Homo sapiens: one gene and its partner. The protein of the gene in region 1 purifies or fractionates together with the protein of each later gene. This does not show direct contact. Each region holds a gene or a part of one and is shown on either strand. Other genes may lie near its edges.

Evidence for each region. Proteins that work in one complex are often made in the same cells at the same time.
Region 2: the proteins of EYA4 (region 1) and SLC25A15 purify together in Homo sapiens (affinity purification with mass spectrometry, with the first as the bait; one large-scale study listed by BioGRID). This does not show direct contact.

What each region holds. Positions count from the first base shown.
Region 1 is NC_000006.12:133,464,857-133,468,356, reverse strand, and holds part of EYA4 (protein phosphatase EYA4), read right to left. Parts: coding exon 3,499-3,500; intron 1-3,498. UniProt on the Homo sapiens protein: Tyrosine phosphatase that specifically dephosphorylates 'Tyr-142' of histone H2AX (H2AXY142ph). 'Tyr-142' phosphorylation of histone H2AX plays a central role in DNA repair and acts as a mark that distinguishes between apoptotic and repair responses to genotoxic stress.
Region 2 is NC_000013.11:40,788,152-40,792,410, reverse strand, and holds the start of SLC25A15 (mitochondrial ornithine transporter 1), read right to left. Parts: upstream 2,801-4,259; 5' UTR 2,748-2,800; intron 1-2,747.

The sequences.
Region 1 (3,500 bases):
AAACCAGGTCCAGTACACAAATTTTAATGTGATTAAAGTTAGCATATGCTTCACTTTGCTCCTGATAGTTACTTATTCAAGGATTTACATCATCAGGACCTACGTGTTTGAAGAGGAAAGAAGGAGATGGAATCAGCTCATATTCACAAAATCCGTTCTTACACATCTTCTAACATCACCAGCAAGGAGTTGGGGCTGCCCCTCCTAGACTCCACAGAGACCTCAGTCTGCATTTTTGTGATTTTTGTTCCTTTCTGGGCTACCACTGATAATTCTGTTTTCTTGGCAGGAGGTAAAAAGTAAATAAAAGAAGATGAATATTATTATTTTTTTTTTACCCAGCCTCTCACAAACTACATGCCACCTGAGGCCTTGATTTAAAGTCTTTAGTGAACTTTTCAATGATTTAGTTTCCCTCCTTTGTTACAGAGAAAAATGAAAGCACTGAATCAACACCCCTGACCTGCTTTTTATTTAAAAATTTTAAGAACCTTAAAATGATTCAAAATCCTTTTACACAGTAGGATGATGAGTAAGGATTTGTTGTGATAATTGGTGTTTAAGATATCTAGCATGTGTCAGCCCAAAATGTTATCAGTGATGACAAATCCTTGGTCATCACTGATAACATTAAGATCCCCTGATGAAATGTGTTCCAAAGGAAAAAAGATCTACATTTGATGTGGTTTCCAAAAAATAAAAGAAATAATCTTTATAAGTAAATATGTATATCTTCATAAATGATTAAGTAATATGGCAGAAAACTAAAATTCTATTAGTCTGAAAATTTCAAGATCCAATGTTTCCCACTACTGTAACTTGTGAGCCAAGAACAAAAACCTCATCATATTTAAACAAAGTTCCTACCAATATCTCTCAGAGTAAAACAGTGGTAGCAAATGTTTACATAGTGCTTACTCTGTATCAAAGCACTGTTCTAAGGGCTCAGATATATTTACTCATTTAATCCTTATACTCTCTTATGTGGTCTTAATACTATATTCATTTTACTTTGAAGGGGACTAAGGCACAGAGTGGTTAAGTGATTTGCACAAAGTCACACAGCTAGTAAGTTTCAGAGCTAGAATTTAAACCCAGAGTGCCTAAGTCAAACATCTGTGCTGAAGCTCTCTGTTAGCCTACTAATTCCTGCAGAAGAGGATGAGGTTACATACTGGAAAGGTCCAGGCTATTCCCCACTGGGGAATATAATGTCTTTTCATATTCAAACATATCTCAAAGATCTCACTTTCTTTTCATTTCCACTGTCGCCCCCTTGTCCAAACTACCTTTTCTTCCTGTTGCAGGCAATGTATTCATTTTTAAATTTATCTCCTCGTTTCCATTTCTGACTTTCTCCAAAGACCTTGGTGGCAGAGTTATCGTCTCAAAACATAAATTAAATGATGTAATTTTCTTGCTCAAAATGCTATCATAGCCTCCCACTGGGCTTGGAATAGAATCCAAATTCCTTATTGTAAACCACCAGGCCTTACGTGAGCAGGCCCCCGCCTATCTCTGCAAATGTGCTTCCCCACTTCCCCCTCATGCACTAACTGAACTCCAGCCTTTTTTTTTTTTTTAAGTTCAGTGACACACCAAGTTTTCCATCCATTGGGGATTTGGTACACTCTGCTTTCTTTGCCTGAAACACCACTGCCCTCCTTCTTCACCTAACTCTTAGAAGTCTTGGCCTAAATGTGGTTTCCATAGAGAAGCCTTATATAAAACCTCCCCTATTCAAAATTATATTCAGTTGATGTTTTCGCAGGCCCTGTTCTCTTTCTAATTCTGCATTTATTTGTGTGTTTACTGGTTTATTGTATGTTTGTCCCAGTAGGCTGTAAGCTCTATGAGGCAGGAATCAGATCTGATCTACTCCAGCCCCACCTTCGTGTGCCCCAGTATACAGACCAATTCCTAACACTTTATGGGCACTCAATAGGTATGAGCCAAAACAACAAACTGGTGCTCAGGCCATGGTCCCAAATACAGATTACATTTTACATTGGGATCCACTATATTTAAATCTTCACAGAGAATCAGATCTGTTCTATGATTAACTCTTTTCAAATAAATGCTCTTTTCCTTTACAAATCTTTTCTTAATCCTCCCAAATAGAGGCAGAGCAGTTTTTCCTTTATAGTACAACTCTGCCTAGTGTATATTTCTGTTATTATATTCACTATATCCCATCCCACCCTCTGTCCATCTTATTTTCATATTTGTTTCTTTCGGAGGACTGAATCCTTCTAAAGAGCAGGGAACAATGAGTTACTCGTTTTGAATCTTCAATCCCTAGCCAAAAATCTAACATATAGCAAGTGCTCAATAAATGCTTGCTGGACCAATAAATAAATGCATAAAATCAAGTTACAAAAAAAACCTCAATTTTAAAAAATAAAATGTATACACTGGCTCTGATGTTTAGTGTTTTAAGACATCATTTTCCTAATGCTAAATTACACCGTTTAATCCTATCAAAAATATTATTATTCCACACGATTTTAATGATCAAAATTTCCTTTCTGCCTTTTGTGATATCAATAAAACTAAAATAAAGCAATTGATAAAATTCCTTCAGTAAATCTAAAAAGTAAGCACTTGTACAGTAACTTACATTTTAGAATATATAAGTGTCTAGCAACTATACTAAAGTAAAATAGTGTATTGCCAGACCAGAAGTCAGCCACTAACTCTTCAATCTCAACTACTTCGAACATGGCTGAAAATCAAAAAATAAGGACAAAAGATTTGGAAGTGTCAACATATATCACGAATTCATCTCACTCCGAGCTGATTTACTTATTCAGGGACATTCACTCTTGCTTCATGCATAATTCTAACATGCTAGATTTTAAAACTCACAAAAATATTAAGAAAACATAATTAGAAGGAGGACTAAAGACTACCAGAGGCAGGCACAGTGACAAAAGCAAAAAGTTGCAGCTGTCAGGAAAGTGGGAATCAAACATTTATTAAAAGTATTCATAAAACTAAAAAACAGAAAAATTATTTAAAAGCCAACAGTAGTCTTTGAGGCATTTTGTTTAGTAACAAAGGACACTTTTTAGGACTGAAAATGTTATATAGTCTGTAGTATAATCCTATGACTTATTTTAATCAATTAATATTGATTCAACCAATTAATATTCATTATAATAACTGCTTTATCAAGAAAAATAAAATTGTTCTTAGTATATTTTAAGATAGCAAAATATCCAATACATTTTGTAATTCCATGCCAAATGATTAAAACAACTACAGCATAAATGTTTAAAGCACAAACCTTTAGCAATCAAAAAATCTAAAATAGCCAGAATAATGCATATTCCAAGAATTCTAGATAGCTAATTTTTTACTATCCTGAAATGCTATCATAATTTTTAAATAAAGAAACCTTATTCTGGGAGAGTATGCACATATATGGCAACCTGAGAGTACTCTTCAAAAATCTGAAATACATATAAAAAGCATAAACACAAAAAGCTACTATACCT
Region 2 (4,259 bases), on another chromosome or scaffold:
AATAAAATGCGGCCTCTGATTCAGTAGCCTTGGACAGGACCAGAGGTTCTGCCTGTTCTGATGAGTTCCCAAGTGAGGCGGACAGTGCCAGTCCACAGACTCACACTTTGAGATACAACACCTGGGCCGTTGTGTCCAAATCCACTTGATAACCTGGAGCACTTATTAAATATCCAAATTGCCAGGACTTTCCTCTGGAAATCTGGATTCAGTATGTTTTGGTTGGAGCCTTGGGCATTTGGGAAAACTAGAATTTCTTTCTCTCTCTTTAGACAAAAGTCAACTACTGTTGAGGCATGGGCTTAATAAATGTTGACTAAAATATCCAACTCAACGACCAATCCTGTACAGTTTTCAAACGGTGTTAGTAACTTATTTGCAAATAATAAGGAACAACTTATTCCTCATCACACTGAGGAGCCGTGTGACCCATCGTGCTGGATCAGAGATGAACACCAAGCACGCTCCTAACACCAATGTCACCCTGAACGTCAACAGGAAACATTGGCCGTGGAGAAGTTGTTTAAACCTCTTGAAGCATCTTGCCAACGACGAGACTTCAATAATCCTCCTTTATTCACAAAAAATTTAAAACCAGTGGCAACAACGGCACATTACTTAATAAAGCAACTAAGTTAGAAGTGCAAGACACTGATTTATATGCTGTTGATAGGTCTGGAGAGACAGGACCATTCACTAGGCTGAAAAGGTGGTGGCCATCTGGTATCTTCCTAAAAAAGTTTATCAGGGTCCTGGCCAGGCGCGGTGGCTCACGCCTGTAATCCCAGCACTTTGGGCCGGCTGAGGTGGGAGGATCACGAGGTCAGGAGTTTGAGACCAGCTTGACGAATATGGTGTAACCCTGTCTCTACTTAAAATACAAAAATGACCCCAGCGTGGTGATGCACACCTGTAGTCCCAGCTACTCAGGAGGCTGAGGCAGAAGATTCACTTGAACCCGGGAGGTGGAGGTTGCAGTGAGCCGAGATTGTGCCACTGGACTCCAGCCTGGGCAACAAAGTGAGACTCTGTCTCAAAAAAAAAAATAATAATAATAATAGAAAATAAAAAATAAAATAAATAAATAAATAAATAAATAAATAAATAAAAAGTTTATCAGGGTCCTAATCCTTTCCCAGAAGGCAAACTAAAGCCTGGAGCAAGACAAGGTCTTCTCCAAGGCCACACAACTGTCAGTGACAGAGGATTCAGTTCAAAGTCCTGTCTTTTCAGGCCTGTGCCTACAAACCAACCGTTAATCTGAGTATTTCAACCTGGCCAAAGGCAACACAAAACACCCAACCCTATATTTTTGGGAAAGAAAAAAACGGGGGCAACTGAGCAGACAGACAGAGGCAAGTACAATGTGGCCTCCTAGATAAACCTCAATGCGCTTATTTCTTTTGGCACAGACACTTCCTTCTTAATTTTGAAGGAAAGTCACATCACATTACATTCTATCTGTCCCTAAGAATTAAACCCTGTTAGGTGAGCCAAACTTAAACACATTAAATTCTACAAATAGGCCAGGCACAGTGGCTCACGCCTGTAATCCCAGCACTTTGGGAGGCCAAGGCGGGCGGATCACCTGAGGTCGGGAGTTCGAGACCAGCCTGACCAACATGAGAAACCCCCGTCTCTATTAAAAATACAAAATTAGCCTGGCGTGGTGGGCCATGCTTGTAATCCCAGCTACTCGGGAGGCTGAGGGAGGAGAATAGCTTGAACCCAGGAGGCGGAGGTTGCGGTGAGCCGAGATCGCCCCATTGCACTCCAGCCTGGGCAACAAGAGCGAAACTCCGTCTCAAAAAAATAAACAAACAAATAAATTCTACAAATAGCCATTAGAATTATTAGGATAGAAAACGATGATGGGTACTAACAGATTCACTCAGAAGGAGTGGGCAGCTAATTCACATTATGTGTAGCTCTGGCTTGGAGAAGACACAGGGCTTGGAGGAGGCAAGACTGTTCAGCATGAATTAAAATTGATTTATGAGCTTGCTGTAGCACTTGGAATAGAAAAAAGAATCTTTTCAGCGCCTTTGACCCCTCTCTCAAATTACACCAGGGTGCAACTGAGGAACAACAGTGCCGACCACCCACTTTTCTCGACCCTTGGGGAAAATAACTTTTTTTTGGAAGGGAGAGTCAGTAGATGAGGCTGCATTTTCCACCAGGGAACACGAACTGCTGCGGGAAGATCCCAGCTTCTGGCTAAAGGAGCCGCAGGCCAGCTCGCCATCCAGTCCCCAGAGCCCGGGCTTTAGGTAAAGCGTGGAGATGCAAATCAGTTTCGCCGCCAAGGACCGGCCAGGCGCGTCTCCTCCCGGGCCTCGCAAGGAACAGGTCAGGGAGACGACTTCCAACTTTCTTGGCCGGACCCTAAACGTTCACCGCCCCTGCCCAGCCGCCCACTCCTGGGCAGCCAGCAAGTCTCCATTCACAAGCGGCTCCATGCTGCCCAGCACTGGCGCCCCTGAGGCGCGGAGCCCCGCAGCCAAATGACAGGACTTGGGGGCAAACAAGGACAAAAGTTCCCACCAGGTGGGCACTGCAGGAAGGAGGCCGACAACCCCGAGATTCTCCGAGTCCCGCGGCACGTGCGCTGCGACGCTGGCCGCTTCCCCCGCCGCTCGGGAAGGTCACGCCGCCCGCACACCGAGGCCCGCCCCGCGCCCCGCTCCCCGCTCCCTCTGCCTGGCGCGCTCCCCGCAGCTGCAGGCGCCAGACCGGGCTGCGCTCACCGCCGCGCCGGCGTGGCCGCGTCCAGCTCAGGCTCCGCCGCCCGCTCTCGGCTCCGGGTCGCCGGCTGGGGCGGCCACTTAACACCCACGTCGGCAACGGCCGGCCCTTCGCCCCTCCCTTCGCGCAGGCATCCCGGACTGCGGCCCCGCGAAGCTCAGGAGCGCCCCTGCGGCTGGCGGGCGGCCTGCCCAGGGCCGTGCCCGAGCCGAGACCGGGAGCCGCCACCGCCCACCGGCCCTGCCACCGCCCCCAGCACGGGAAGCGGAAGTGGGCGTGGGGCCGCGGCGCGCACAGCCAGCCCGCGACCCGGCGTGGTGCTGCCGCCGACCCTGGTGAAGGTGGAGAGCGGGGCCTGCGCCTCCGGAGACTTTCCCACCTCTGGGATCCCCGAGACCCTCTCTGAGGCCGGACCCTTGTTAGCCCGCTGGGCTGGGACTGGGGGCTGGGGGCTGGTAATGTCAGTGGTTGGGAGGACTTACTTTTTAGCTACTTTGACCTTGTTGGGAGGCTAAGGCCTTATTTATAAATTATATTTGAGTACAAAATTATACTCGGGATCCAAGGCCCTAATAGGAAATACAACTAAGTATGAAAATACAGGAATTAGCCGGGCATGGTGGCTCACGCCTGTAATCCCAGCACTGTGGGAGGCCGAGGTAGGCGGATCACCTGAGGTCAGGAGTCCAAGACCAGCCTGGCCAACATGGTGAAACCCCGTGTACTAAAATTACAAAAATTTATCCAGCGTGGTGGTGCGTGTCTGTAACCCCAGCTACTAGGGAGGCTGAGGCAGGAGAATCGCTTGAATCTGGGAGGTGAAGGTTGCAGTGAGCCAAGATTGCATCACTACACTCCAGCCTGGGCTACACAGCGAGACTCCGTTTCATAAAAACAAACAAACAACGACAAAAAAAAAAAGGTGTGGTGACACATGCCTCTATTCTTAGCTATTTGGGAGGCCAAGGCGGGAGGATCGCTTGAGGCCAGGAATTGGAGGCCGCAGTGAGCTATGATGGCACTGTTGCACTCCAGCCTGGATGACAGAGACCTCATCTCTCTCTCTCTCTCTCTCTCACCCACACACACACACACACACACACACACACACCCTCCACACAGTGTAATTTTATTTTACAACTTTAAGCCTTGTTTAGATGTGCTGTTGGATTATTATTTTTTTCTTTTTTTTTCTTTTTTTTTTTGAGACAGAGTCTCACTCTGTCACCCGAGCTGGAGTGCAATGGTGCAATCTCAGCTCACTGCAACCTCCCCCTCCTGGGTTCAAGCGATTCTCCTGCCTTAGCTTCCCAAGTAGCTGGGATTACAGGCATGCGCCACCACACCCAGCTAATTTTGTATTTTTTAGTAGAGACAGGGTTTCACCACCTTGGCCGGGCTGGTCTCGAACTCCTGACCTCAGGTGATCTGCCTGCCTCGGCCTCTCAAAGTGCTGGGATTACACGTGTGAGCCACCACGTCTGGATGTGCTATTGGATAATTACCTACGTTAT